2 separate regions of the Homo sapiens genome follow, and region 1 is linked to region 2. Evidence: fine-mapped QTL for protein levels in blood plasma. A gene starts in region 2. The other region holds a variant in brackets. All regions are shown on one strand. Distances are between the middles of the regions.

Region 1 (15,820 bases), 92 kb after region 2:
GCCCTTCCCTCTAGAATGGAGACACCAGAGGGACCAGGTTTGTCTGGTCCTTCTCACCCTCCATGCCTCCAACAGGGCCTGTGGGTTTTCACTAAGTGACTGTTGAATGAATGGATGAATGGATGGATGAATGACATGTTGGGCTCTGTGGCTCCTAGTCCAGCCCAGGGATGCAGCAGACCTCAGTCCACACCTGGAATCAATCCCCCACAACCCAAGCCACCCCTCTCCCCAACAGGGCCCAGGTGGTCCTACTCTTCCAGTGCCCTGGCAGGGGGAGGCAGCAGCTGCCCACCAGAACACCTTCTGCACATCCAAAGACAGCTCTGGGGGCGTGCCTTGCTCACCTGGGGTTCAGTTCTGTGTAGGTGTGAACTCACCCACGGTCCTGGAGGAAGGGGCTCCCAAGTACTCCTACATGTTTGTGGCCCCATGATCAGGCCAAGAGTGATGGCTGCCCTGCCCAGACCTGCCTCCTGCTTAAACTTCCCTACACTCTCTTCTGCCCACCCTCCAGCTCAGCACAGGAAAATGTCATTGAAATGTCCTTGGCTGCACTTTCATTTCTGCCCTGTGAGGTATCCAGGGTCAGGCACGTGGGGCTCCTGCCACTGATTAGAACAATAATGGAGAAGCCATGGAGTCTGTCACCGGAAAGGCAAAAACTTGGCACCAGGCTGTGATGTGGAGCCATCGTGGCAGAATGCAGAGTTCCCTGCAGCTCTGAGTTAGGACCCAAACACCCATCTAATCCTCCCTCCTTCCCTCCTTTTCTTCTTTCCATCATCCATCTACCCACCCATCATTCATTCCTCCAGCATCTATCCATCATCCCTCCATCATCTATCCATCATCCATCATTAATTATTCATCCCTCTGGCATCCATCTATTCACCTACCTGTCCACCCATCAACCATCCACCCATCCATCTATCATCCACCTATCCAACCATCAACCATCATTAACTATTCATCCCTCCGGCATCCATCTATTCACCCACCCCTCCACCCATCCATCATCCATCATTCATCCTTCCATCATCCACCCATCCACCCGTCATCCATCATTCATTCCTCCAGCATCCATCATTCATCTTTCCATCAGCCACCCATCTACCCATCAACCATCATTCATTCCTCCAGCACCCATCCATCCATTTATCCATCCATCCATCCACCCACCCATCATCCATCATTCATTCCTCCAGCATCCATCATTCATTCTTCCATCGGCCATCCATCCATCCATCATTAATTATTCATCCCTCAGGCATCCATCCATTCACCTACCCACCCACCCATCATCCATCAACCCATCCATCCATCATTCATCCACCCACCCATCATCCATCATTCATCCTTCCATCATCCATCCACCCACCCATCACCCATCATTAATTCCTCCAGCATCCATCCACTCACCCACCCACCCCCCCATCATCCATCAACCCATCCATCCATCATTCCTCCACCCACCCATCATCCATCATTCATCCTTCCATCACCCATCCACCCACCCATCATCCATCATTAATTCCTCCAGCATCCATCCATCCACCCACCCACTCACCCATCATCCATCCATCATTGATTATTCATCCCTCCAGCATCCATCAATTCACCTACCCGCTCACCCACCCATCATCCATCATTCATCCTTCCATCATCCATCCACCCACCCATCATCTATCATTAATTCCTCCAGCATCCATCCATCCATCTACCCATTCACCCACCTACCCACCCATCACCCATCCATCCATCATTGATTATTCATCCCTCCAGCATGCATCCATCCACCTACCTGCTCACCCACCCATCATCCATCATTCATCCTTCCATCAGCCACCCATCCACACACCCACCCATCATCCACCATTCATCCCTTCAGCATCCATTCATCCATCCACCCACACACCTACCCATCCATCAACCATCCATCTGTCCATCCACTCATTCACCCATCCATCCACCCACTCATCCATCAACCATCATTCATCTCTCCACCATCCATCCACCCACCCACCCACCCATCAATCATCTATTCATCCGTCCACCCATTCACCCATCCATAATCTATCCATCCATCCATCCATCCATCCATCCATCCATCCATCTATCCATCCATCCATTATCCATCATTCAGTTATCCATCTCCATCTCTATCCATCCATCTATCATCCATTAATCCATCCATCCACCCAACTGTCATTCATTACTCCTTGACTACCCCCATGGGCCAGGCCTTGTATCCACTGCTGGGACCTAAAATTACATGGGGAGTGGGAATCATTCCAGGTAGAGTAAACAGCTGGGCCTGGACAAACCCGCATTGTGTTTGCTGGGCCTGGCACAGAGTAGTGCCCAGTAGGTATTTCTCAAATGAATAAGTAACTGAATGAGCTAGTCCTGGCACTGACGTGACCATCAGCCAAGCAATCCTGAGACTAGAAAAGCAGCCAGTGTGGCTGGAGAATGGAGGAGGGGGAGGAGGGGGAAGAGGGGGTAGGGTTCAGGGGCCTGTGACCCAGAGAACTGAATTCGGCTAGAAAGGGACTACTGGTGTCCATGGAAGAAGCATTTTTAGGGGGAGGATAGGCATCTGCCAAGTGCCAGAGGGGTGCGGAGGGATGAAGGGGGCTGGACTCTGAGGCTGGAATTGGTCAGGACAGGCCTGTGGAGGGGATGGTCCTTTTCCAACAGGATTGGAGTCGGGAGTTCTGCAAGTCATGGGGTCCCAGACGATGCCAGATGTTACACTAAAAATAACCAAATATGTAATTTTTGTGCTAAGTTAGATAGCATCTTCATCTGGATTCCCAGGCGGGCAAGTTGTATCAAGTACCAAAGATTTAAAAACATGTATGGGGGCCTGTGGGGGAGGCTGAAATGAAGAACATTCCATACACAGAGGTCCTGGCCCCTGGGAATTGGGACAAGGCCACTATTGTGAGGTTGTCAGGGAAGCATCTCTACCCACCACCTGTGGAAGGACCAGCAGATAGGGCAAGGGCTGCACATGCAGGGTCCAGGAAGGACTGCTTCCCGAGAGGGAAAGCTGGGCACATTTGGGGAACAGAGGCTGACGTGGAGACCTGGGGGGAAGGCTGGTATCGGGTGTGGGCCCATGGGAGAGGAGGGAAGAGCAAATGGATGTGGTGGGGACATGTTCTTTTCGGGGGCATGGTAGAGAAGCAGAGCTTCCTGGGGAGCCTGGGTGGGAAGGGTGGAGTTCCCATGCTCAGAGTGAGGGGTAGAGGGTGGGGACCAACGCTTTGGGGAGTGAGGAAAATTAGCAACAGCCACTAAAGAATAAAGGGGCTGGCTGGGTGCGGTGACTCACGCTTGTAATCCCAGCACTTTGGGAGGCTAAGGAGGGTGGATCATTTGAGGTCAGGAGTTCAAGACCAGCCTGGCCAACATGGCGAAAGCCCGTCTCTACTAAAAATACAAAAATCATCTGGGCCTGCTGGCAGGCACCTGTAATCCAAGCTACTCTGGAGGCTGAGTCAGGAGAATCACTTGAACCCGGGAGGCAGAGGGCCTGGGTGACAAAGTGCGACTCCAACTCAAAAAAAAAAAAAAAAAAAAAAGAAAGAAACAAAGAAAAAAGAATAAAGGGGTCACCCAGTGTTTCCCAAAGTGTGTTCCCTAGAACACTAGCTCAACAACTTCTCCATTAAAAGGGTTCCAGGTCAGGTAAATTTGAGAAACACTTCATTGACCACCATCAAACAGGTTTCCCCAATGCGCTGCTGGGGGCCATTGTTCTCTGTGCACCTGGTGTCAGTGGTTCCCAAGTTTATTTGCCTGGGAGCCCTGTGGGATTAGGCCACATGCCAGCAAGGACTGCTGGAGGCCCAGGCACAGTTCAGATTGTCCCGAGAAGATAAGGGAAGGACAGCGTGCAAGGAGTGGGCTCTGGGAGGACAGCTTTCCCTTTCCCATGCTCACGGTCACCTGCCAAGGGCATTTTTGACAATCAGAAAGAGGAAAACAAACCAGCCACACAAAGCTCACGGACTTTTCTCCTGAAAAGGTGAGAGGGGACACCCGCTTCTCAGCCCCCTGCAGCGAGCGCCCTGGGGAGGCCCTGGAGGCCGGTAAGTCCTCGGTCCAGCTGCAGGCCCACCCCGCCCCAGAACGCCTCCAGGCTCTGACAGAGCCACCTCCTGCTCCGCTCCATCAACTTACTTTTCTGTCGTTGAACTCGACGTTTTCACCGTTGTAGTCTCCCTGTTAAAAAAAGAGGAAAGGGACGTTCTTATCATCCAATGGAGCTTTGGAGGCGCTCACATCCATTATGTTTCAAAACATAAACCCCAGCAGCTCTCGTTGACACAAATTAAGATCATCCTGGGGCAACATTTCACACAGAGTGTGAGGGTTGCCCAGGTGTGCCCCCGTTATGATAGAAAGGCCGTGCACGTCCCTGTTGGCCGCCCTGTTGGCCTCCACCACCAGGACGGCCTGAGCCGCCTCTTCCCTCGACACAGAGGGGACTCTAGGAGAGGATCCACGGTCGGGTCCTTGGAACCAGAAACACAAATGAAAGGGGGCTTTTGGAGGCAGGAAGAGTCGTATCAATAGGGTGCGTATATGTCCCACTCTGCTGGGACAGTCCGTGTCTTGCTCCCTTCTCACTGTGGAGCATCCCAAGAGGGACAGTAAATGACAAGGTCATTGTCATCTAATCAGTGAGTCCAAAACTCCCATTCTACAGATGGAATCACTGAGGCTCCGAGAAGCAAACTGACATTTCTGAGGACACACACCTAAGTTCGGTCAGACCCTGACTTGGATCCAGACCTTCAAACCTAAAGGAAGAGAAGGGTCTAAGGGTTGAAAGCCCATCTTGGAACATCATGGGTCTAGACTGCCTATGGCTATGTGCACGTTACCCTCACAAACACTCAAAATGATACTTAACTGTCATTCAGTGAGCCCCAAATAACTACAGTTGACAAAAGTAACTGGGGAGGAGCAGCAAGGGAGCGGCCCTGTCGAGGTTCAGGGCATGGCTGGCCTGGCCTGGCTAATAGTTTTTTTTGTTTGTTTGTTTTGATTTTGTTTTTGTTTTTGAGATGGAGTTTCACTCTTATCGCTCAGGCTGGAGTACAGTGGCATGATCTCGGCTCACTGCAACCTTCGCTTCCAGGTTCAAGTGATTCTCCTGCCTCAGCCTCCCAAGTAGCCGGGACTACGGGTGCCCACCACCACACCCGGCTAATTTTTGTATTTTTAGTAGAGACAGGGTTTCACCACGTTGGTCAGGCTGGTCTCAAACTCCTGACCTCAAGTGATCCGCTCGCCTCGGCCTCCCAAAGTGCTGCGATTACAGGTGTGAGCCACTGCGCCTGGCCTGGCCAATGGGTTTTAAGAATATCCAGGCAGACAAAGCTATGGGGCTCCTGGGGGTCTGTCCAGTGCCCTCTCCCCTCACCAGCAACTTCCATGACCCCTTCTAACCCCTGCCAGGTGGGGACGACTTGACCACACACTCAAGCAAGCAACCAAATGCAGGTGGTCTTGGAACGAAGACGCTCTGAGAGCAGTTTAACCAATTTCCTCCTAAGTCTTCAGGGGATCCTCACCCACCCAAGCCTGACTCCTTTTAGTGTTTCCCAGTTTCTTTCCATGGATGAGACAGCCACGCGATCCCAGCAGCACCTCATTTATACGGAGGTCCTTATGCTGGTGACCTCGTTAGTCAGGAAGAAAGCCAAAAGGCCGCCAAGTAGCCAACATAAATATCAAAGTCCTTTCAGTACGGGTGATACACTCTGATTCCAGGAGACTTCCTCAGGGTCTCAGTTGGAGCATGTGACTCTTACCCACACACAACTCTATCAGGTTGTTATCCGCCTCCCGAGTTCAAGCAATTCTCCTGCCTCAGCCTCCCTAGTAGCTGGGATTACAGGCATGTGCCACCATGCCCAGCTAATTTTTGTATTTTTAGTAGAGATGAGGTTTCGCCATGTTGGTCAGGCTGGTTTCAACCTCCTGACCTCAGGTGATCTACCCGTCTTGGCCTCCCAAAGTGCTGTGATTGCAGGCGTGAGCCACCGTGCCCAACCGACCAGATATTCTTGAGGAATGAATGAATGAATGAATGCAGTAAGCACAGGATTGGAAGGGGGTAAGATGCAGGACAGCTTCATGGGGAGGAAGATGGAAGCAAAAATGTAAAGCCAGAACTACACTGCATGCAGTGAGAGCCTCACCATGGCCACCGAGGCCAGCCTGAACTTCCCTGCAGTCAGTATTCTGGGTAAGGACATGGGTGCACGCGGCTCAGGCCAGAACCAGTCATCTCCCCAAATGCTTAAACATCAGCTTTGGTACTTAGCAGCACGGGCGCCCTTCAGTCATATGGAAAATCTGTGGCTGTAAACTTCCATATTCCCTAAGGATACCTGCCACCCACAGCCTAGGGCTTCCGAGCTCCACTCCTTCTGGGCTGTGCGCCCCTGGGCAAGTGGTCTGAGCTCCTCCAGCCTGTTTCTCCATCTTTAAGGTGGGAACAGACCCCACATGGCTGCATAAGGCACGATGAAGATTTTGAAAGAGGAGATTGTCTGCATGGATCTTGGAGATGCTTCTTGTGAGGCTGGCTCTCTGACAATAAATAGATCCAGCTGATGAGGGAGTTTTGCGCCAGTCAATTTAAACTGTTGACAGTCAATCCCTAAGACAAATGCAGTAGTGGCTGCCAAGAAGAGGGATGCATTTGGCCTCCATGACGGGATGAGGTGGGGACACAGCGAGGCACTGGAGTTGCAGAGTGTCACTAGGGACGGCTTTTGGCCCCAGCTCCTCCAAAGGGGCTGTGTGACCTCAGGCAAATTACTAAGCCTTTCTGAGTCTCTGTGTCTGCACAGGTTATATGAGGTACAGTTCCTTCTAAACAGAGGGCTCTGCACACAGTAGGTGCTCAGATACGTTCATTTCTCCCCTTTCCCTTTTAAGACTTAAAGGGCTAACTCAAAACAAGCAGGGAGGGCCGGAAACATTTTGGCTTCGGTGCCTCAGCCTCTCAGCAGGGATTACCTGCTTAAAGGTCAATCAGGAGCATGGATGTAGCTCTAGGCTGCCTTCTTGGGATCATGGGCTGTGCCAGGCAGGGCTGTCTTCCTGGCACCCAGCCGGAGCCTACACAGGGTGGGACAGAACAACCAGACCGGCTGGGTCCTCTGGAGGAAAGCCTGACAGAATGGAGGAGTGGGCTCCTCCAGACTCAGGGCTTCAGGGCAGGAACCCGGAGCCACTGCCCTGGTCTAGGGGCCTGAACTCTGCCCTTGAAACCTCCCCATACAGCAGGTCGCTGGCCGAGGCAAACCGACTCAATCCAATCTCAATCAACACCACGTTTATTGAGCACTTATTAAGTGCTGAGTGCTTGGGCTTCCTTGAGATGACACACATAACTAAAGGTGGTCAGACGGTGGTGTCTTTGCAGGACAGGGACCATCTGAGGCCCAGAGAAGGGAGGAAGAAGCCACTAGTCCTGGGGAGGAAGGCAACAGGCAGGCGTGGTGTGGGTGCTTCTGTCCGCCTGGGGTGGGGTGGGGCGGGGAAGAGTACCGTAGCAGAAGGAACAGCATGTGTGAATGCACGAAGGGAGGAAGCGGGGCTGCTCAACCACCCCAATCCCCGGACCTACAGTGAGGAGGAGGCCCTGACAGGGAGGCGACGAGGTGACGGGCAGCAGATCTGCCTAGACTCCTTCCCTTGGGGTCAACCGTCTGGAGAATACACCCCTGAACTGCCCTGCGGGATCCCTGCACCTCAAGTTTGTCTAATCCATTGTTTCTTCCTCAAGAAGAGAGGAATTAGGCTGGGCACGGTGGCTCACGCCTGTAATCCCAGCACTTTGGGAGGCTGAGGTGGGTGGATCACTTGAGGTCAGGAGTTCGAGACCAGCCTGGCCAACATGGTGAAACCCCATCTCTACTAACAATACAAACAATTAGCTGGGTGTAGCGGTGCACGCCTGAAGTCCCAGCTACTTGGGAGGCTGAGGCTGGAGAATTGCTTGAACCCAAGAGGTGGAGGTTGCCGTGAGCCGAGATCATGCCATTGCACTCCAGCCTGGATGACAGAGCGAGACTCTGTCTTGTTTCAAAAAAAAAAAAAAAAAGAAAAGAAAAGAGGAGTTAGGACAAGTTATGATTCCTGACCCACAGATGGGGACACTGAGGCTCAGTGAGACAAGGGGCTGACTCCACCACTCAAGGCGGAGGAGCAGGTAAGTGGCCGGGACTGGAATCTGGGTCTCCTTAGTCCCAGGCCTGTCCCTTCTCTCCTGCTTCTTGGCTCCTGGCCTTTGCACATTTGCAAAGTTTCAGAGCTCCTCTGTCTGGGATTCCCACACTGCTCAGGCCCGGAGGCCCATTCCCAGTGCCCTGCTGAACTTGAGTCCCTGTTTCCATAGAGACAACAAGAAGACAATCTTCTCTCTCTCTCCACCCCAAGTCAGCCACTGACATGGGCTATATTTGTCAAAGGGATACCAGTGGGATCTGGAGATTCAGCTCAGGAAGCTGGCCACTTGCTCTGCAGAAATAGACACGTACAGAGCCCTGGTCATTCTGCCAGAGCCCCGGGCCAGCTGGGGGTAGGGGAGCCCAGGCCAGGAAAGACATTCTGTGGACCCGCTGGCTACGAGGTTCAGAGGAAGTCGAGGCAGGAGCAGCTGCCACCCGTGCCCCCGTTTTGGTGGGATTGTTTTGCAAGAAAAGATGGCCCTGTGTGTAACTTCTTGGCCCCCACCCGGGGAACAGGGAAGGCCTGTGTACAGTTGACATTTACAGCGAGAGCCAAGCAGGAAGCTGTGACCACAGGATAATTGCAGCTCCCGGGGGGGTGTGGCCCGGCGGGAT[T/C]TGGGGAGTCAAATGACGCAGAGATAAATCGTGTGTCAAGGTTACTTACATCGTGCAGTGGGTATGCAGCCGCGTACACACCATTGGCCAGCAGGCTCGTGATGCCTTAAAAACAGAGGCAGAGAGAAGGTTATGGGGCAGGCGGGTCTCCCGCTTCCCATTGTAAAGTCACAGCGGTCACAGGGCCATCTCAGCCACTAAGAGCTTCTCAAAATGAAACGAACCTGACTACGCAGAGCCCGGCCACCTCTGGGGTTTCTTCCCCAGGAATGACAGGGTGCAGCTGGGTTATTGATCTATCAACTAGGAGATGACGAAACACATGCTCGATTGGCAGAATTAGGAAGACACAGAGAAAACCCCAAGAGGCGGCTCTGTCTCAGAGGCAGGCGGTGTGAGCGGACCATGGCTTCACTGTCACCCCAAGCCTCCGATTCACCGGCTCCCCCCACCTGTCCGAGGGCAAGCCTGCAGATGGGGAAGGTGGATTGTAAGTGGTTAGAGAAGCTGAATCATGAGGAAATATACGGATGGAAAAATTGATGGTGTCAGAAAACACACATACAATTTGGAATTAGATTTTAGGTTGATTGGGAAAGCCGGAGGAGGCCCACACTTACCATACTTCCCACATTTCCGCCTTTTACTTAGAAGGGCGGAGTCCTTCTTTCTTCCCTCGCCTTGCCCTGTTTATACATTGGCTATTAGTGAGGTGGAAGGGCCTGACAGGATCAAAGCTACATTTGGGGCAGCAAGCGTCAGTGGCCAGTGATTCTGGCGGACTCACAGCCGTCCAGTGCTCCTGGAGGCAGTGGAATGCTGGCAGGGCCCCTTTTTACGTGGCCCCCAGGGCCTGCACTGGGCACATTATAAAAACACCATGCCTGTGTGTCCTAACAGGTGCGCATGCGGGCGCCCAGCCCCAGGAGACTGCGAGAGAGGACCGGAAAGCCAGGGCCATGTGTGGGGAAGGGTTTCCTGGAAATCAGATCTTGCTCCAAATACATCGTGGGGGCCCAGCCAGGCGGGGGCGTTTCCATGGGGCCCTTTGCTGCTCATGGAACCCCCTGCTTGGCTGAAGAGGCTTCCTAGGCAGTAAGAGCGTTAAGTTTTTCACAGCAGCCTGGGCGGACCACCCTCTGAGACTCCACCTGATAGCGGCGGGAAAATGACCTCCCGAAATCCCCTTGAAAATGGGCCATCTCTGTGGTCAATGACCTGGAATGATCAGGGGACTAAGGGATGCTTAGAAGTCAAAACCAGAGGAAGGGGCTTAAGCCACATGTGTGAGTGAAAAGTTTGTCTGCAATAGAAAGTGAACATGGGGGCCCGGCACAGTGGCTCACGCCTGTAATCCCAGCACTTTGGGGGGTTGAGGCAGGTGGATCACGAGGTCAAGAGATCGAGACTATCCTGGCTAACACAGTGAAACCCCGTCTCTACTAAAAATACAAACAATTAGCCAGGCGTGGTGGCGGGCGCCTGTAGTCCCAGCTACTCGGGAGGCTGAGGCAGGAGAATTGCTTAAACCCAGGAGGCAGAGGTTGCAGTGAGTTGAGATTGTGCCATTGCACTATAGCCTGGGTGACAGAGCAACACTCTGTCTAAAAAAAAAAAAAAAAAAAAAGAAAGTGAACATAGGCCCTCAGCCAGGCTCGCTGGCCTCCTTCCTGTTGCTGGAATGCTGCTAACCTGGTGCTGCCTGCCGCAGGGCCTTTGCATGTGCCACTCCCTCCATCTGGAAGGCCTTCTCTCATCACAGTTCCTAAATCCCGCAGCTAGCCCCACCCTGCTCATCCTGCAAGACTATGGGACACAACTTGGCAGGTGACGGGAATCCTCAGCACTTGCGGATGAATTTAGAGGTGGGTCGACTCTCAGACAAGGTGTCATGGTGAAGCAGGGCTGAAGAGGAGGACCCGCATCTATCTGCCCCGTCACCAGGTGCAGGGAACCAGCCCCGCCACAAAACCGGTGGGAACACAGAGACCCTGTGTCCCCAGGGACCACCCGAGCAGAGAATCAGCCTGGGCCATGCAGCCTGAAGACGCTGGACTTCTATTGCAACCATACACGTTTCTACTGGAAGGAACGCTGCAGGGACCCAGGGGGGAAACCGAGGTCCAAGACCCGGCCCTGGGACCAGAACCATGCCTCCTCCTTACCTCTAGTTACCTTTCCAAGGCTGTGCCCTGGCAGCGGTGACCTAGAGGAGCAATTTCAAAAACCCAAACTCCCAACGTCACCTTCCTTTCCGCCTGACCTCACTGCAGTCGTGTGTACTAGGGCTTGGCCATTCTAGAGGATCTCAGTCCTTTTGACCCTGGATGGGACTCCTCCACACTCCCCTTGCCTTAGGACATGGACTTAGAGACTTCAGGCCTGCAAGGGTATCCCTGTGAGTGAACACAGGCCATATGGTCTGGGGCCAAGCAGCCACCAGAGCTGTCGAGGGTTCGTCTTCTCTCTGTCTCCCGGGCCTGACCTCAGGAATTCCAGTTCCGAGCCCTTGACTCCCACTGCTCTTCATTTTACTTCCCACAGCATTCCTGCCACCACGGGAAGCCAAGGCAGCAAGATGGTCCCTCCTGTATGCACAGACTCCAGCTTTCACCAGACCTGCTGTGTCCCCCGGGAGCCATGGCCTCATCCTTTCAGAGGCTTCTACAGAGTGATGGATGCTACCCTATGGCACGGCTCTCAGCAGGTCATAAGACAGCTCAAGAAGGAGGGGAGGAAAGGCTGGAAATGGCATTCCTTTGCTCTGCAATGTTCTGGCTTTCACAAACTGCCTGCAGCTGTGGGCAAGGGACCCACTGTGGGGGGTGGTTCCCAGCTACACAATTTAATTGGGAAGATTTTGTATCTACGGCTTAAGGGGTTCTGGAAACTGGTACCCAGAAAGCCTGGTCAGGATGGTTTTGTGGCAGCTTCCGGAATTAGGCTGTCTGTACCTGGTGGTGCCTGGTCAGGGGGCGCTGCTTTCAGCAAGCCCAGCTGTGCTTTTAAGGGTCCGGAACAGCCACATGGAGATGCCGCCCCGGCTGGAACCCCAATTACTTCCCACTGGACCGTGAGGGTCAAGAGAGGGCCAGGAATCCCCCGGTCATCCCTAACACTGGTCTGTTTCCAGCCTGGATTTACCACCCGTGCAGGGAGAGCCTGTCCACACGCTCACAAACCCCTCAGGCCAAAGTGAAGGATACATTTGTGTTTAAAAGTGCTGGGCCATAAAACTGCCCTGCACGCTCCCAACCCAGCCCTCTTGTCTGGAACTGTTACACAGGCTTAAATCAAAACCCTCTTAAACACCCCAAGCCGGCTGCCTGCCTCCCACAGAGATGACTCGGAGGTGAGATTCCGACTTGGAAACCAATGCTGATCTCAAGCCCCAAAAACGTGCTTACCCATGCTGTACTTGGCCTTTGTACACGTCGTTCTCTTCAAGATCTCATAGACCTATTGCAGAGACAAGAAGGGGGGTGAGCAGTTACTTAAGGCACCTTCCACGAGCAGAAACAGTCTGCTGTGGCTGGAGAGGACCTGGTCACACGTTACGCATGAAGACCTCCTTGGTGCTATCTTCCAAGGAAAGACAATGGCATTTATTCAGGGAGGGTTGACCCAGCTCCGGATTCTCAACACTGTCAAAGGCTTGAGCTTCTCAGGGAGAAACAGGTGCACCTGCAGTTCCCATCTTTCACCTCCCAACGTGGGAGTCATGGCAGTTGGCCCCAGCAAAGCACTGCCGTGCCCTCCTGGGCCTAGTGCTGGTGTCCTGTGTCACAGCTGTGCCACGTACCCTGCCTGGTGGATTTACGGTCCCCTCGTGCTGAGAGCTGAGTTGGAACAGCACCACTCTGGGACACAGCCCTGAATGTTCTAGGACTCTGGGGGATCAGGGGTGGTGGTGGTGGGGCGGGCCTTGGGATCCATTCCCCACGGTGGCAGGAGGCGGCCATCATCGGGCTCTGGGTTCCTGGTGCCTGGGCAGAGCCCTGCTGAAGGGATTCCCCCCCGGCTGCCTGCCCCTTGACTAGTGACGTGTTTTGTTTGGTGGCCTCAGCAGCTCCGGCTTGGGAGTCTGTCTGCCTGGAACCTGGCGCCAGCTCTGCCATTTGCAGCTGTGTGATTTTGGACCAGCGACATCACCACTCCCGGCCTCAGTTTTTCCATCTGTAAACTGGGGTGAGAAGAACTGGTCGTGCTATGCAGACGTGCATTTCAGAGCATGCCAATTCTGCCTCCACTCTCTCAGGCAAGGCCAGCGTCCTTCCAGTTCCCCCTGGCCCAGGCCATCTGACCGCTTCCCCGCCCCGCCGCCTCCACTGGACCCACCTGTCCCAACAACCCCGCCCCCTGGCTGCCTCTCTCACTTTCCAAACTCACTCCTGCAGCCACAGGGCCTCCGCCCTGGCTGTTCCTTTTCCCAGAAGCACTTGTCCCCTTCAGATTGGAATAGGTCCAGGGTCCCCTTAACAACCAGGCCTTGAGGCCACCACCCTCCCGGTGGCTCTGTCTTCTAGCTCAGCTTGCCTCTCCCCACCTGCCGGATTATAAATGTCCTCAGTGCCTCTTTTCTCCCACCCAGCAGGTGCCCAATACATCCCTGCTGAATGAAGGAAGGAATCGCCCACTAGGCTGTTCTCAATGGCTCCCTCCCCATCATCCCTCAGATCTAATCGGTTCTGACCTTGCTGATTCTCCTGTAACCACCTCCTCCCTTCCACATGCAGTTATGGCCCATGTTTATGACCACTGCCACCAGCCCTCATCCACCAGTCATTTACCCTCCCACAGCTGGCCACTGGCAGTGATCCTTCTGGAACGGATCTCACCACATCCTCAACCTAGCTCCACAACCTTCTATGGCTCCCCAGCGCCCACAGGCCAAAGGTCTAAAATCCAAGACCAGCACAGTGGGCCTCTCCCTATCGAGTACTGCTGTTCTCTGACTCCTATCCACTTGCACACTGGACCACCCCAATGCCAGGACAGATTGAATGGTGTGGAGGAGAGGAGTGGGGAAGGGCTGTCAGTTCTCCACGGCTTTGCCTAGAACCTCAGCCAACCCTGCAGGCTGTTGGATTTTGATGACTATTAGGCCTGACTAACCAAGGCCAAAGCTATGAATTATCAGTTTCTTTGGAGCATGTTGGCCATTTAGAAACTGGCCTCCAGGGTCTCTGGGAGAGAGATGCCCTCCTCCCTGCCCCAGATCTGTCTGTCCCAGCAGTGGCTCAGAACCCCCCGTGCTGGTACGACCTGCACCGACCTCCTGCTGGCTGCCTGCCAGTCTCAGGTGGTGGTCATGAGGAGTAGTTGTCTGGACAAGGTCACCCTGACTGTCTCCTCCCAGCCCTCTGTCTCTGCCCGGCCAGGCTGGGCTTTCTGGGCAGGGAATAGAGAATAACAGCGAAAGTTTGGCTGCCAGGTTAATTTCTTGTTTAGATAGAAGTTGGGTCCTGAGCCATGCACAGCCCCAGCTTGGCTGGTGGACAGGTTGGATAAACATGAAGCCAGTGCCTTGAATAGGGCAGGGTGGCCTGGTCAGATTTCAAACCTCAGTTGGCTCCTCTGGCAAAGGCCTGGAAAGAGATCTCAACCCACGCGCCTTTGCCTCCACCAACCCTCCCTCCTGCCCACACCTGCCTGCCCTGAAAGCCCCGAATCGTGGCCTGATGGTCAGGCACGCACAATCCCACCACGAGGCGGCTCTGAGACATGTGCTGGGAGCTGCACAGATCCAGAAACACCGACCTTTGAAATCACTCCAGGGGTCTGGCTTCCCTCCTGCTTTCCCAAGCTCTGTGCTGATTCCCTTCCTCTCAGCTGCCCCTGCCTGGGGCACGACCATCCCCTGGGCCCCTCGTTGCCCTCTCCCTTTCATTATTCTAATTATTTCTGTCACAGACAATTAGAGCCGGCTTCCACCGGGAGGAGTTTCACCAAAATGAAATTATCATCTGGATCCCCAGGGCCATCTTGCCAGTGAGCCGTTTCCAGGCGCGTGCGATACTTACAATCGTGCTCCGGGTTTTGCTGTCGAAAAAGGAATCCTTATCAGACAAGTCAAATCTGTGGAAATATCGGGAAGGAAACAAGACACAGTTCACCAGAGCTGGCAGTTCTCTGGGTTTCAAGGCCCTGGGAAACCACACTGTCCCCATTAGCCGTGACCGTGAAATGGACAGAACTCTGTCCGCACGCCAGGTATGACCCGTCCGCCCCTGGGCATTTGGAACAGACTGTTTCACTGCCCCCGCACCTGGGCGAGGCCTGAGACCCACATAGGTGGGAAGTGACCTAGGAGGCGAGTACGGTCAGACCACCCTCCAGCCCCCCACCCCCCACAGCCCCCCAGAAGATCCCTGCTTCCTTTTGATGACATCCTCAGTGGGCAGTTTTGAAAGTCTCTGTTTCAACAAGGCGGGGGACAGGGGCAGTATCACCGCCACCATCAGACAGCTCCAACCTTGAAAACAATCTCCCTGTATTTCCAATGGTTTGGGTCCTGATGGGCTGCATAGGGATGGCCCGAGGCTTCCTGAGGGTGGAGGGGCATCTTGGGAACACACTCCCTGCTCTCCCTGCTCTCCAAGGCACTTCGGGGAGAGCTGGGGAGGGCGGCTGGGCCAGTTTCCACCTCCACGGAGCCTGGAGGTGAGCTTAGCCCTGTCCAGGCAGCAGGGCTGACAGAGTCGACCCAGGGCAGAGACGAGGGAGGTCGGCGGGGGTCCTGGAAGGAGGGCGGTTTCCTCTAATGCCCCAAGCCCCTGTTCTGGATCTGGAGGAGAGGGCTGGGCTTGGGGGTTGCTTCCTTCTCTCTGGTGGCATGTCCTGTCCGCTCTAGGAATCAGGACCTGGTAAATGCATCCAGTGATGCTCATGGCTCCACCCCTACTACATTTATAAGCAAGGGCCCCTGTGAGCTGAGG
Region 2 (15,820 bases):
AGGGAGTCGCGCTAGAGGAAGCAGGACCCGGGCAGGAGTGGGGGCTGCAGGGATCCCACTGTGAGTGGGTGCATGGGCAAGCCTGCATCAGAAGGATGTCTTCTGAGCTGGGGGGCTTGGGGTGGATAGTGAGGAAGGCTGCAGGGAGAGGAAACAGCAGGGGCAAGGGCTGCGGGGGAGGGTGGGAGGGGGTGAGGTGACAGTCTTGCTGTGGAGGGAACATGGCACTGGGCTGGGCTCTGCACAGTTGTGTACCCCGTCCCATGCATGATGATGCATGGATTAAGATTTCATCCTGGGCAGGCGCGGTGGCTCACTCCTGTAATCCCAGCACTTTGGGAGGCCGAGGTGGGTGGATCATGAGGTCAGGAGATCGAGACCATCCTGGCTAACATGGTGAAAACCCGTCTCTACTAAAAATACAAAAAATTAGCCGGGTGTGGTGGCGGATGCCTGTAGTCCCAGCTACTCGGGAGGCTGAGGCAGGAGAATGCTGTGAACCCGGGAGGCGGAGCTTGTAGTGAGCTGAGATCACGCCACTGCACTCCAGCCTGGGCGACTGAGCGAGACTCCACCTCAAAAAAAAAAAAGATTTCATCCTGAGGGACATGGGGACATTGTAGCTGGGGTTCTCCAGCCAGAAACTGATTTGGAAGTAGTAAAACATTGCCCAGACTCCCATGATGACCAGGTTTTCATTTCAATAATGAAACATCAATAGGCACAAATATATAGCCAGATGTGGAATAGAAGCCCATGTGTCTAGCCCTTGGAAACTATAAATCGCCAATAAAATTGCAAATTGGGGAGAGAGAAGCCTACAAAACTCGTAGAATTCAGATTAATAACATATTTAACGTCAGGTATGATTACTATTTTTTCCTTTCTTTTCTTTCCTCTGTTTTTTGAGACAGGGTCTTGCTCTGCTGCCCAGGCTGGAGTGCAGTGGCGCAACGATGGCTCACTATAGCCCTGAACTCCTGGGCTCTAGTGATCCTCCTGCCTCCCAAGTAGCTGGAACTACAGGAATATACCACTGTGGCCAGCTAATTTATTTTATTTTTTTTAAATTTTATTTTGAGAAAGAGTTTTGTTCTGTTGCCCAGGCTGGAGTGCAGTGGCGTGTTCTCAGCTCACTGCAACCTCCCCATCCCAGGTTCAAGCAATTCTTCTGCCCCAACCTCCTGATTAGCTGGGTCTACAGGCATGTACCAACACACCTAGCTAATTTTGTATTTTTAGTAGAGATGGGATTTCACCATGTTGGCCAGGCTGTTCTTGAACTAGTGACCTCATGTGATCTGCACGCCTTGGCCTCCCAAAATGCTCAGATTACAGGCATGAGCCACCACACCGGCCTAATTTATTTATTATTATTATTATATTTTAGAGATGGAGTCTTGCTTTGCAGCCCAGGCTTTTGAACTCTTGGCTTCAAGAGATCTCCCACCTCAGCCTCCCAAAGTGCTGAGATTACAGGCGTGAACGACTGTGCCGGGCTCAGCATTTTTAATTCATTCCAAACAGAAGTGCATTCTGTTTAATCATTAAACAGTATGTATGATGCTGTTTTGCTGAAACAAAATTGTAGCTTCATGTCTACAGACTGTCATCAAGGAGGCGTGGGAGTTTGGAAGGCCTTGTACTTGCCATGTGCCTGGGGGTGACTCAAATGGTCCACGATATTCTTTTTCTATTTGAGCCACACCTCAAAAACTTAAATCATATGTCATTTGGCTTTCCATGAGGACCCCATTCATGCATTGAATTGGCCTCTGTTCCTTGGTGACCATTACTGGGGTTGGCATCCATGATTCTTGCCACGGGGTCTCAACTTAGTAAATGATTCAAGAAACTAAGAGCTTCTTTGATGGAAGTATCTTTCAATTGCAAATTTCCCTGTAAAAGAGAAGTCTTGCCTTTATCTCAGCAGACACTGGGGGACGGGTCACTCTGGCATGAGCACATGCTACCCCACGTCATGTTTGCCTGTCTGATTCCAAATGCAATTCACACAGGATTTGTGTGGCTAGAAAGCAGTCAGCAAGATGACTCAGATTAATTATCACGGGAATAAAAATATAAAACAAAAAAATATGGACAGAGTTCGTGGCTTCTAAGAAGAGTCAGGGGACTGTGTTATGACTCAGTTTATTTCTGGCTGCTGATGGGAGATGGGCTGGATGGGTGGAAGGCGGGGCAGAGGCGGAAGATGAATTGCGAGGTCACTCACTGTGGTTGTCCAGTGGAAAGGGCTGAGGCCCCACTGGGAGTGGGGGTGGCGGCAGGTAGCAGAAGAGGTGGATGGGAGAGACACTTGTGAGTTACAAAGTATAGGACCTGGTGCTTACTTTTATTTTTTTTTGAGACAGGGTCTTGCTCTGTTACCCAGGCTGGATTGCAGTGGTGTGATCATGGCTCACCGCAGCCTCATCCTCCTGGGCTCAAGCAATCCTCTTGCCTCAGTCTCCCGAGTAGCTGGGAGCACAGGTGTACACAACCACATCCAGCTACATTTTTTTTATTTTTATTTTTTTTAGAGATGAGGTTTCCCTATGTTGGCGAGGCTGGCCTCAAACTCCTGGGTTCAAGTAATCCTCCCACCTCAGCCTCCCAAAGTGCAGGGATTACAGATGAGAGCCACTGCACCTGGCCTAGCGCCCAGTTTTAATTGAGGGAAGAGTGACAGTGGGGAGAGGAAGGAGGGTTTGTGGCTTGGGCTACTGACTAGATGGTGGTGTCAGGCACGGAACGGGGCGCAGGTTGCAGGGAGGCTGAATTTGGGGTGTGGCTTGCATGACTCTGACAGTGCCCATGTGCTAATCCCTGGGATCTGTGAATATGTTCCCCTACCTGGCAAAGAAATTCTGCAGATGTGTTTAAATTGATGTTGAGATGGGAAGAGGATCCTGGGTTATCCAGGTGGCCCAGTGTAGTCACTAGAGTTTTTGTAAGAGGGAGGCAGGAGAATCAGTCAGAGAGATGGGAAGATGCTCATCTGTGGGCCTGAAGATGGAGGGAGGGGCCATGAGTTAAAGAATGCAGGCAGCCTCTAGAAGATGCAAAAGGCAAGACACGGATTCTCTTCTAGGTCTTCCGGGAGGAACCAGCTTGCTGACACCTGATTTGTAGACCAGGGAGAGACATTTTGGACCTCTGACCTCCAGAACCATAAGATAAACTTGTGCCGCTTAAGGCGGTAAGTACGTGGTAGTTTGCTATAGCAGCCACTGTGAGGCTGCCCCTAGGCAGTTGGGGTCTGGGGCAAGAGAAAGATCTGGGCTAGAGATACCTGGCAGGTACCAGGGACCTAGGATGGGTGAGGCTAAGAAAGGGCTGTGCTCCCTAGAGGAGGGGTGAGGCTGAGGCTGGGGGAGGGTGTGAGGGACCTGAGAGGAGGACAGCGGAGAGGGAGAAGAGCTCCTGGAGAGAATGGTCACGGAAGGTGTCAGAGGCCCTAGAGATTCAGGTAGAACAAAAATGCTGCAGCAGCCTGTGACTTCAGCAAGAATAGTTTGTGTGGGGTGTGGTCTCAGGAGCACCAGGGAGTGAGTCCTGGAGAGGGGTGGCTGTGAGAATCTGGGAGCGAGTGTGAGTGTGGCGTGGAGGGGGCACTGTGTAACAGAAGGCAGAAGGGCAGGCAGCTGGGAGGCTGCGGGAACCTGAAGACCAGAGGGTTGACCCTTTGTTCCAGGAAACGCTTGATCAAATTCCCCTGAAGTCTCCCGCAAAGCACAGACGTTTGGACTTGTCTTCCCTCTTCTGTCTTAGGGGAAAAAGGAGTCAGAGAGCAAGAGACGGCTGTTACCTCCAGCTTTCAAGTAAGCCCAAGATTTGTGCGTACCTTTTCCAGAAACACAAATTCTACCTGATTGTAAAAAAAATGAACATAGAATTTGTTTTTTCAAGTTGCTTTAAGAAATCCATGTCCAAGGCCGGGCGCGGTGGCTCACGCCTATGTAATCCCAGCACTTTGGGAGGCCGAGGCAGGTGGATCACCTGAGGTCAGGAGTTCCAGATCAGCCGGGCCAAGATGGTAAAACCCTGTCTCTACTAAAACTACAAAAAACTAGCCAGGCTTGGTAGTGCACATCTGTAGTCGCAGCTACTTGGGAGGCTGAGGCAGGAGAATCCTTTCAACCTGGGAGGTGGAAGTCGCAGTGAGCCGAGATCATGCCACTGTACTCCAGCCTGGGCAACAGAGTGAGACTCCATCTCAAAAAAAAAAAAAAAAAAGAATACTTTCCCACGCACCCCAAGAAAATCTCTTCCCCAAAGCCAAGCTGCTCACACTTAGGGACAGTGAGGGGCGATGTGTCTATTCTCTATAGAACTCACCCTGACCTGCGCCTTGAGAGCAGGCATGCGCCGGGTCGGGGGTGTACAGTGTGTAGGTCAGGCCACGCTGTTTTGGGATAGCAACCAGCTCAGCGCCACGGCAGCACCCCAAGCTAGTGATGAACTGGTTAAAGCTTGTTTCTGCTAGGTTTCTGAGGCCAACAGGGCAGGGCTACACTTCTGTCCCATTCACTCCTATGGCCTTTGCTCCTAGCAAGGAGTCTGGCACCTGGAAGCGTCAGGTGAAGGTGTGGAGGGGCTTAAAGGCCGGGGTCCACGGCTTACTGGGGACAGTGTCCTGCGGCCTTGGCTAAGATCCCACCTATGGGACGGCACACTGGACTTTCCCAAGGTCATAGCTGGTGAACTGGGACAGAGAATAGCCACTTGGCTTTGATTCTGATACTGTTGGTGGTGCAGGCAAATTCTAAGAGCGGCAAAAGCTACCCTAGCAGACCACTGTTTGCTAAGGGCAGACACTGCTCATGAGCAGCTAGCGAGCTGTCAGGAAATCCAGCCACCCCTCCCAGGTTGGAGCCCTTGACAGGGATCCTCAAACTGGCTGTACTGGGAATATCCAGCATATCCAAAATGAAAGAACCACCAACAGGAATAGAAAATTTTTTGTAGTATGGAAGTTGTAAAGCTGTGTTTTAATAGGATTACCTTAGGAATAAGAGGACTGCTTTTTAAAGATACGAGATCCCGCTGCCTTGGCAATTCTGTTATCAGAAAGATAGTGATTTTGATACAAAACAGTAAGAAACTGTAGAATTGCAGGACCCATAATCCTCACAAGGAAGATTTAGAGAGTGCTGTGTGTCAATCACTCATCAGCACCTCACAGATATTATCTCAATTCGTCCTGGCAACCATCACTGCCCCTACTTAGCAGTCTCAGAGAGGAGACTCAACTCACACAGGGGCCAAGAGCTGGACCACGGCCAACCAGGTCTCCCCACCCCCACCCCAGCCATGCCTCTCCCCACCACAGCACCCCGCCTGACCCTAGTGTCCAGGTCTGTCCCGGTGGCCTCCAAGGAAATGGGACAAAACATCCTTTCTGCCAACTGCAGGGGCAGCAGAACGCCACAGTGGTTGAGCATGGGCTCTGGTGAAGGATGGCGGGGGTTCAAATCCCAGTTCTCCACCTCTCTGCTTCGCTCCGATTCCTGGGCCTCTGAGCTGGTCTCCTCCGCTGTGGAGTAACAGTGTGACTGCTCATCTGCACAGATTCCTTCTGTGCTGGACACGGTTCCAACTTTCCAACTACTCCCGCAGGAGCTCATTTAGTGGAGACAAGATCTTGCTCAGTGTCATAGTGAGGAAGAAATGGAAATATCTGTGCAGGGCCCAAGCCCGGCCTGGTGCGGGAGAGGCATTAATAAACGCAGCTTGAGTTCAGAAGCAGGTGGTCTGTGGCTCACTCAGCCTGGCTTCCTGCTGGGTCTTCACAGTGCTGGGCTACCTTCCTGGAGAGAACCAAAGTCCAGGCTGTGTAGATGCCTGTGGTCCACCAGCGCAAAGCAGCGGCCCATCAGGACGCTTCGGAGGTAGATGCGTCTGAGTTCCATGACATCGGGGACATGGCCCCACTCCTGTTCTGGAGGTCACGGGCCTGCTGAACCTCTTGTACCAGGTCAGCCACCAGGTTCATCTGGCAGGACCTGAGAGCCCCCACCAGGTGGGCCACTGTTGCGTTCTCCTTCTCTGTGTTCTTCCAGATTCTCAGTGACTCCCGCACACGCTCTGTCAGGTTGCGGGGGTATCTGTCCTCGATGCTGTCGATCTTGGTGTCTGAGACTTTGAGCTGACGAGCCAGCCTTCTCCAATCTTTCCCCACATTATCACATATGACGTTAAATGCTGCACACAGGTCTGGGAAGGAAAGAACAGAACGGTTTACCATAGGTTTGGAGACAAGCGACCCCACAATCCTCCCTAGGGCTTTTCAGCACAGACGCCAAGTGCTGAGTGGACAGAGGTGCCTACACGAGGTCCTCTGTAGAGGCTAGAGTCGCCTGGCAGCAAAGGGGCTGCACCAAATGCCCAAGAGTGGCCTGATTCCACCTCAGCCAAACCCCCTGCTCTCTAATACTGTCCTAGGAGGCGTGGCCCACTGAAGACTCAAGTGCCAAAGGAAGTTGTAGTGGAGCTACCTACTTAGAGCAGGAGACACTGAGGGAGGGGCTGGGGAGTTGTGGGAGGGAAGAAAATAGGGTTGATCCCACATCCTGCCCTACAGCAGGCTGAACGATGTCACCCCAAGGTATGTTCACGTGAAATTGCTGAAACCATGAATGTTCTTTGGAAAAAGCATCTTTGCAAAGGTAAGCTGAGGGTCTTGAGAGGAGATCATCCTGGATGACCTGGATGCACCAATGATAGGTATCCTTGCAGGAGACACACAGGGAAGGCCGTGTGAGCCTGGAGTGAAGCGGCCACAAGTCAAAGAATGCCTGGAGCCACCACAAAGCGGACGAGACCCGGAAGGAGCCTCCCCAACAGCATTCCGAGGGTGTGCCGGTCTGTGGCACCCTGCTTATTCAGATTTCTGGCCTCCAGATTGAGGGGGTAGATTTCTATTGCTTCAGGCCACCAGATTTGTGATCATTTGTTATGGCAATCACAGGAAACTAGTAGGCACTCCAATTGTTATTTAGAAAGCTGCCCCGAGTGACCACCAGTCTTCAGTCCCTGGCTACCATACTCCTCATCTGCTGACGTCACCACTGAGATCAGGGAGCTGGTCACAAGACCATAAAAGGCCGCTTCTGGAATGTGAAGAGAGGAAAGGAGAGGCAGGACAGGGTGCTGCTTGGACTACTGGCAATTCTGAGACACCGTTGGCAGGTGTACCAGCTCCCGCAGCTCTGACAGCCCTGTGGGCTGGGCACTGTGTTACCATGACTGTACAGATGAGGAAATTGAGGCACAGGGAAGCTAATGGACATTCCTGAGATCGTGTAGCTAGACGATGGCAGAGCCATGTTCTGAAACCCTAAGAGTGTGGTGCCAGAGTCGACCCTTAACCGCTATGCTGAACTTCTGGGGAGGAAGGCAGAGTCGCCCGCTACCAACCTGTCCATACCCACCGCTCACCTTCTGGTGTACTTTTCCCAGCACACAGTAACTACATGACGATATAAATAAAACCAAGCACACATACATCTCAAATGTCAGCTATGTTTCGTAGACCGCCTTTAAAATGCAATTTATCAGTGTTTTTCCAGACATTAAATATCCATAAAACCCGATTTTTCTACGTCCTGTTTTGTTTGTTCAGTACTGATTTTTTTTAAAATCTGGACTTGACTGCTCTCAGGCAGAGAGCTGTTCTGTCCATCCTGTCCCCAACAGGCACCAGTCTTTACAGAGTGAAACCCATGGTGACACATTTAGGCCCTATCTGATTGGTGACTGAATGGCTGATTCCAAGCTACAGCTTGAAGCCTCTGAGAGGCGTCCCCAGAGCACTCCCAAGCCTCTCCCGACTCTGAGAACAAGGGGGGTAGGGCTGAGAAACTCTGCTGTACTCAGGGTTTCTTTTTTATCCTGGAAGCTGCTGCAATCCACAGGCGAGGGTGGAGAGGGAGTGACCGAGAGCAGGACAGGAAGCCACTCCACAATGAACTTGACCAGAGAGGCAGTGTAGTGGCTAACACTACCCATCCGGAGGCCGGACTGCTTGGCTCAAGCCTAGCTCCGTCAGTTATCGGCTGCGCATTTCGACAAAGCCACTTAACCTGTGAGCCACAGTCCTGTCCTCTGTAAAATGGGAACAGTGATAGCTAACAGTATCTAAGCCACAGGGCTACTGCGAAAATTGTATTTGGCAGTTACAAGGGTAAGCGGCACACTGTAAGCCCCTGGGTAGGAGTTACTGAATGCTAGTATTACTCTCAGACAGCCGTGAAAAGCATATTCCGAGACAGAAAGGAAATGATGCGAGGCAGGCTCACCCAACCTCTGCCCCTCCCCCACACCTTCTCTGACTCATCTTTTCTTCAGTGAGTTTTCTAATTTACCCGGGCAGAAGTGGGTGGAGGAAAAAGGACTGTGCGTGTCCACGCCCTGCAACCTCGAATAAGTTAACTTTTCTGCGTTTCTGGCTCTCCCATCTGCAAAACCAGGGCTGTACGGAGAAAACCCACGCAAATCAAACCCGGCAAAGGGGAGGCGCCTGGAGGCCAACCGGAGGAGCCTCGCAGCACCTACAGCCGGGCGACCAGGCCCTGGCTCCCCCGGCCCGGCCCCGCGCCCACCTTCTTCCCCAGGCGCGGCCCCGGCCGCCGCCCCCGCCTCGAAGTCGTCGACGCGCCGCAGCAGGTCGTGGCGCCGCAGGGAGGCGAGCAGCTCGCGCAGGAGCTCGGTGTGCCCGGGCTCCAGGTCGTTCTGCTCCAGCAGCATGGAGAAGAGGTCTAGGCCGCTCTGCACGCGCTCCAGCTTGCGCTTGCCCACGCGCCCGAGGCATAGGAACTTGAGCTCGGTCAGCTCGCTGCTCGACAGGCTGGACGACACCGAGTGCAGCAGCACCAGGAACGGGTCCATGGCGGGGTCTGCAAGCGGCCGGGGCTGCGGCCCGGCCCTCCGTGCGCCCTCTGTCCTCGGCTCGCTGGCCCTGGCCAGGTCTCGCCGCTTGCCCAGCGGCCCAAGGATTCCACCCCCGAACCTGCACTCCGGTGCCTGATTCACTACAGGAAATCGACAAGAGCGCGTTTTCGACCGTTATCTCGCGAAAACTAAGGGACCCGCGCATGCGTCCCTAGCGAAGCCGCAGCCGTTTCCGCCCTGGCTGGCGGCGCCGCGGACGGGCGCGGCTTCTGCGCCTGCGCCCGGCGTATCGTCTCTTTTCCGGGTGGGAGGTGGGGCCTTGGGTGTCCTGAGAGCCTGCAGGTGGCCCAGCTCTCTGCGGTGAGGGCGGTCGCGCCTCTGCCGAGTCCACCTGTTTGCAAAGCGCGGTGCGGCCCTACTGTGTGCAGGGCCGGGGCGGGGAGGGCGCAGCCCGAACGTCACGTGCCCTCACATCTGTTGGTGACCAAGGTTACTTATGCATTAACGTTTAGGGACAAACGTGGAAAATGCATTCTTTGGTGCCCCTGGAGACATCTTGTGTGTGCAGAAAACACTACTCAGAAGTTTATGTGCGTTTAAACATGTGATTTAAATAATACATGATTTCCAAAGTAGCAGTCGTTTATTCAATCAACAGTATTGAGCGCCTACTGTGCCAGGTAGTAGGGTCTGGGGACAAATTAGTGAGCGAAGCGCGAGGGTCCCCGCGTGCCCGGAGTTTACATCATAATTACAAAAGCGACACGCTCCAGAAGAGAAGGTCGTGGCGGCCGTGGTGGCTCAGCCTGCAATGCCCGCACTTTGGGAGGCTGAGGCAGGATTGATTGAGACAAGGGGTTCGAGACCAGCCTGGGTAACATAGTGAGACCCCGTCTCTATTAAAAAATAAAAATAAGGAAAAATAAGGAAATCGTATAGTATGCCAGAAATTCAGAAGAGCCAGGGGAAAGGGAGTCTCTTCACGGGGTGGGCGTGTGGAGGGTGGGGGGCCCGGTGGTCTGATGGGGCCTCTGTAAAGGCGCAGGTGAAGGCTGGGAGGGGCCGGGTACCTAGGTGTGGGGGGAAGAGCTGGGCACACGGAGAACAGAAGAGCAGAGCACAGGGGACGGCTGGGGTTCCAGGAGCAGCAATGCCGTGGGTCTGGAGGTGAGGAGGGGGTGCAGATTAGGAGAGCCCTCACCAGCCAACAAGGACCCAGCTTTACCACAGGGTGGGGCAGGGGCTGATGCCAGCTGAGTTTGTTTTCTTGAGATATAATTCACATACCATTCAATTCACCCTTTTAAAGTTATACTTCAGTGGTTTTTAGTGTAGTCACAAGGTTGTGCAACCCTTACTGCTGTCTAACTTTAGGACATTTTCATCACCCCAAGAAGAAACCCATTAGCATGTACTCCTCCCCTCCCCCACCAACCACGAATCTACTTTTTTTTTCTTTCTTTCTTTTTTTTTTTTTTTTTGCTGTTTTGAGACAGAGTCTCGCTCTATGGCCAGGCTGGAGTGCAGTGGTGCGATCTGGGCTCACTGCAACCTTTACCTCCCGGGTTCAAACAATTCTCCTGCTTCAGTCTCCTGAGTAGCTGGGATTACAGGTGCCTGCCACCATGCCTAGCTAATTTTTGTATTTTAGTAGAGACAGGGTTTCACCATGTTGGCCAGGCTGGTCTTGAACTCCTGACCTCAAGTGAGCCTCAGCCTCCCAAAGTGCTGGGATTACAGGCGTGAGCCACTGTGCCCTGCCGAATCTACTTTTTAAAATCTATGGATTTGCCAATTCTGGACATTCCATGTGTACAGAACCATACAGTATGTGGCATTTTGTGTCTGGCTGTTTTCAGCATCATTTTCAAGGTTCATCCATGATGTAGAACATATGAGTACTTCATTCCTTTTTTTTCTTTGAGACAGAGTGTCACTCTTTTGTCCAGGCTGGAGTGCAGTGGCACAATCTCGGCTCATTGCAGCCTCTGCCTCCCGGGCTCAAGCGACTCTCGTTTCTTGTGCCTTAGCCTCCTGACTAGCTGGGATTGTAGGTGTGTGCCACTATGCCAGGCTAATTTTTGTATTTTTAGTAGAGACAGGGCTTTGCCATGTTGGCCAGCCTGGTCTCAAACTCCTGGCCTCAAGTGATCCTCTTGCCTCACCCTCCCAAAGTGTTGGGATTACAGGCGTGAGCCACTGTGCCCAGCCTCCTTCCTTTTTATGGATGCATACTATTCCACTGTCTGGGTGTTTGGGTGCCACAGTGTGTCTATCCATTCATCGGAGGATGGACATTGCCTTTGCTTCCACTTTTTGGCTGTTGTGAATAATGCTGCTATGAACACTGAGTTACAGTTTTATTTTGTTTATTTATTTATTGAGACAGGGTCTTGCTTTGTCACCCAGGCTAGAGTGCAGTGGCACAGTCATAGCTCACTGCAGCCTCCTGGGCTCAAGCGATCCTCCCATTTCAGCCTCCTGAGTAGTTGGGATTACAGGTACATACCACCACCCCTGGCTAATTTTCATTTTTTTTTTTTTTTTTTGTAGAAACAGGATTTTGCCATATTCCCCAGGCTGGTCTTGAGCTCCTGGGCTCAAGTGATCCACTAGCCTCAGCCTCTCAAAGTGCTGGAATTTCAGGTGTGACCACCGTGTCTGGTCTTGAGTTACATTTTTTTTTTGAGATGGGGTCTCACTGTGTTGCCCCAGACTGGAGTGCAGTGGCACGATCTTGGCTCACTGCAACCTCTGCCTCCTGGGTTCAGGAGATTCTCGTGCCTCAGCCTCCCGAGTAGCTGGGATCACAGGCATGTGTCACCACATCCGGCTAACTTGCCAGGGTCTGACCCACAGACCTGGGCTGCACTACAGATGAATAATGTACTCAGACACCAGTATTCAGTGAAAGAGCTGGCTAGGGGGCTGGACCTTTCACAAAAAGAGTTGTTCCAGCCCCGCGGCCTGACTAGCTGGTCCTGCAGGCATTTATTCAGCACAGACTTAATGACAAAGGCTTTGAGTCAACACATTTGTGGGTAATTAATCTGGTTGCCCTCCCTCAGAGAGAGTAGTCCTGCCCGTGAATGATCAAAGGTCTGTTTTAGGACAACATGAGTGAACAAGCTATTTAGATAAACTCCTCTACATTCCTATGTATCTACGCCCTAAACTTTTAAGAGAATTCAGCTACCTTCAGCCAAATCTTTTACTGAAGCTATGCAAACCTTCCGGCCTTCCAAGAAAGTTTGTGTCTATTTCCTATAACTTTATCTTTATAATTTCTCCTACCACCTTGACCAATCTCCTGCATTGTGTATGTTTAGCAGAGACACGGTTTCACCATATTGGCCAGGCTGGTCTGGAACTCCTGACCTCAGGTGATCTGCCTGCCTTGATCTCCCAAAGTTCTGGGATTACAGGTATGAGCCAGCGTGCCCAGCTTTTTTTCTTTTTTTCTTTTTTTTTTTTTTTTTCTGAGATGGAGTCTCATTCTGTCACCCAGGCTGGAGCGCAGTGGCGAGATCTCAGTTCACTGCAACCTCCGCCTCCCAGGTTCAAGCGATTCTCATACCTCGAGTTACATTTTTAAAGATCACGCTGGTTGCTGGTTAGAAGCCAGGGGACTACAATAATCCGAATGAAAGGCAGTGCACTCAGACCAGAGGGCAGGTAGCAGTGGAGGTGGTGAGAGAGGGCAGCCTTCTTTAGATTGGGGATGCGCATAAACTAGAGAATGCAGGATACCCTGTAAACTTTGAAGGCTGGTCCATCCATTGATGGAAACCGGGAAGGTGCGGGTGGGGTGGGCTTGAGGGAGGACCGAGATTGGCTTGGGATGTGTGTGTGAGATGCTGCTATGGTTTGAATGTTTGTCTCCTCCATTAATGGGTTAATGGACTGATGAGTTATTATGGGGGAGGATCACACTAAGCTCCCTCATCACGTGATACCCTGCATCGCCTCAAAACTCTGCAGACTCCACAGAGAGCCCCCGCCAGCAGGAAGACCCTCCCCGAAAGTGGACCCTTGACCTTGGACTTCTCTGACTCCATAACTATAAGAAAGAAATTTCTGGGCCAGGTGCAGGGACTCACACCTGTAATCCCAGCACTTTGGGAGGCCAAGGAGGGTGGATAGCTTGAGCTAAGGAGTTCAAGTCCAGCTCAGGCGACATGGTGAAACCCCATCTCTACAAAAAAATACAGAAAAAAATTAGCCGCGTATGCACCTGTAGTCACAGATACTCTGGAGGCTGAGGTGGGATGATCATTTGAGTCTGGGAGGCAGAGGTTGCAGTGAGCTGAGATCGAGCCACTGCACTCCAGGCTGGGTGACAGAGTGAGAACCTGTCTCAAAAAAAAAAAAAAAAAAAAAAGAAAGAAATTTCTTTTCTTTGTAAATTATTCAGTTTCATGTATTCTGCTATAAGCAACAGAAAGCTAATACAGATACCTATTAGATGTTTTGGTGGAGATGTTGACTGGTCAGTGAGGGGCATGAGATGACAGGGAGAAGAGGTGAATTTGAGAGTTGCCTGCAGATAGATTGTGTTGAAAAAACCAAAAGAGTGCAGTCACCTATGAAGAGGGATAGAAAAGGTGACTGGATGACCAACTGGGCTCAATGGCTCACCCCTGTAATCTCAGCACTTTGGGATGCCAAGATGGGAGGATCACTTGAGCTCAGGAGTTTGAGACCAGCCTGGGCAATGCAGTAAGACTTCATCTCTACAAAAAATTTAAAAAATTAGCTGGGCGTGGTGCCACACGCCTGTAGTCTCAACTACTGGGGAGGCTGAGGTGGGAGGATCGCTTGAGCCCAGTAGGTTGAGGCTGCAGTGAGCTGTGATCATGCCGCTGCACTCCAGCCTGGGTGACAGAGTGAGACCACGTCTCAGAAAAAAGAAAAAGAATAAAGATGACCAACAGATGAGCCTAGGGGTGTCCACCTTTAAGGGGCTGGGAGATGTGGGGAAGCCAGTGAGGGAGGCTGAAAAAGCACCATATGACCTTTTCTTGATTAGTGTAGCTATATAGTAAACCTTAATACTGGCTACAGCAATTTCTCCCATTGTATTTTGCTTTGTCAAGATTCTTTTAGCTATTCGAGGGCCTCTGTCTTGCTATATGAATTTTATTTTATTTATTATTTTATATATATATATATATTTTTTTTCTTTTTTATTTTTTTTGAGATGGAGTCTCGCTCTGTTGCCCAGGCTGAAGTGCAGTGGCGTGATCTCGGTTCACTGCAACCTCTGTCTCCCGGGTTCAAGCAATTCTCCTGCCTCAGCCTCCTGAGTAGCTGGGACTACAGGTGTGTGCCACCATGCCCAGCTAATTTTTGTATTTTTAGTATAGATGGGGTTTCACCATGTTGGCTGGGCTGGTCTCTAACTCCTGACCTCAGGTGATCCGCCCGCCTTGGCCTCCCAAATGCTGGGATTACAGGCGTGAGCCACCACGCCTGGCCTTTTTTTATTTTATTTTATTTTTTTTTGAGACGGAGTCTCGCTCTGTCACCCAGGCTGGAGTGCAGAGGTGCGAACTCAGCTCACTGCAGGCTCCGCCTCCCCGGTTCACACCATTCTCCTGCCTCAGCCTCCCGAGTAGCAGGGACTACAGGAGCCTGCCATCACGCCCGGCTATTTTTTGTTTTTTTTGTATTTTTTAGTAGAGATGGGGTTTCACCTTGTTAGCCAGAATGGTCTTGATCTCCTGACCTCGTGATCCACCCGCCTCAGCCTCCCAAAGTGTTGGGATTACAGGCGTGAGCCACTGCACCTGGCCCATTTTGGTCTTTGTCATTAATGTCCAAGGCTATTCTAAATATGTGGGCATATTTAGAATAATGTCATTAATGTCCAAGGCTATTCTAAATATGTGGGCATCCTTGGCTCTCCTTGGGGGTAGTGTTTTTTCCAAAAAAAGAGACTGCTTCCTGAGGGGCAGGGCTCTGTGGTAGGCAGAATACCCCAAATGTCCACATCCCTGCCGGCCCTCACCCTGATGCGCAGACCTGCAGCTATGTTCGTCAGCATGGCAAAAGAGACTTTAAGATGCCATGAAGAGGCCGGGCACAGTGGCTCACACCTGTAATCTCAGCAATTTGGGAGGCCGAGGTGGGCGGATCACCTGAGGTCAGGAGTTCAAGATCAGCCTGGCCAATGTGATGAAACCCCATCTCTACTAAAATACAAAAATCCCAGCTACTTGGGAGGCTGAGGCAGGAGAATCCCTTGAACCTGAGAGGTAGAGGTTGCAGTGAGCCGAGACTGTGCCATTGCACTCCAGCCTAGGTGACAAGAGTGAAACCCCGTCTCAAAAAAAAAAAAAAAAAGCCATGAAGATTAAGAACTTTGAGATGGGGAGATCGTCTTGGTTTTCTTGGTTTAACCCTGCAGACCCAGTCTAATCATGAGGCCTCATAAAAGAAGAACCAGAGAAGAGGCAGCACGAAGACGTGGCCAGGAAGGGGTCACAGACGGGAAGACAAGGGCCTCTGGATGCTGGAGAAGGCACGGACCTCCCCCGGAGCTTCCAGAGGGAGCCAGCTGTGCAGGCACGTCGATTTTAGCCTAGTGAGGCCTGTGCCAGAAACCTGACCTGTAGTAACAGAATAAATTCGTGTTGTTTTGGGCCGCAGAGTTGGTGGTCATTTGCCACCACAGCAAATATTTTAGGTTGGTGCAAACTAATCGTGGTTTTGCACCAACCTAATAGAAAACTAAGGCCGGGTGCAGTGGCTCACGCCTGTAATCCCGGCACTTTGGGAGGCCGAGGCGGGCGGATCACAGGGTCAGAAGTTCCAGGCCAGCTGGGCCAATATGGTGAAACCCTGTCTCTACTAAAAATGCAAAAATTAGCCAGGCATGGTGGCGGGTGCCTGTAGTCCCAGCTACTCGGGAGGCTGAGGCAGGAGA

Direction of the effects. Alleles are on the strand shown, and positions count from the first base shown. The strength of an association depends on the size of the effect and on how common the allele is.
In carriers of allele C in region 1, the plasma level of the protein whose gene starts at base 9,053 in region 2 tends to be higher than with T alone (weak association).

What was found. PIP is the chance, under the fine-mapping model, that this variant and not a neighbour inherited with it causes the effect. The UK Biobank Pharma Proteomics Project read protein levels with antibody pairs (Olink). The fine-mapping took linkage between variants from a reference panel, not from the people measured, so its PIPs are less certain.
Region 1: its variant is fine-mapped to the plasma level of the FADD protein (UK Biobank, PIP above 0.99).

Annotation. Positions count from the first base shown.
Region 1 is chr11:70,104,874-70,120,693 of GRCh38, reverse strand. It overlaps ANO1 (anoctamin 1), which reads right to left. Exons shown (of 26, transcript NM_018043.7): 5 at 14,906-14,960; 6 at 12,290-12,341; 7 at 8,932-8,987; 8 at 4,195-4,236. Among named protein-coding and RNA genes, the nearest start is that of ANO1, 34 kb to the right of the region's middle. RefSeq lists enhancers at 3,437-3,937, 3,938-4,438. The variant T/C (reference allele first, on the strand shown) is at 8,883.
Region 2 is chr11:70,196,529-70,212,348 of GRCh38, reverse strand. It overlaps FADD (Fas associated via death domain), which reads right to left and starts at 9,053. Exons shown (of 2, transcript NM_003824.4): 1 at 8,604-9,053; 2 at 4,959-6,216. The coding sequence starts at 8,889. The coding sequence ends at 5,876. It overlaps LOC124902705 (a long non-coding RNA gene), which reads left to right. Exons shown (of 3, transcript XR_007062761.1): 1 at 1-60; 2 at 3,092-3,199; 3 at 3,772-3,839. RefSeq lists silencers at 8,323-8,514, 8,564-8,643 and an enhancer at 15,119-15,618.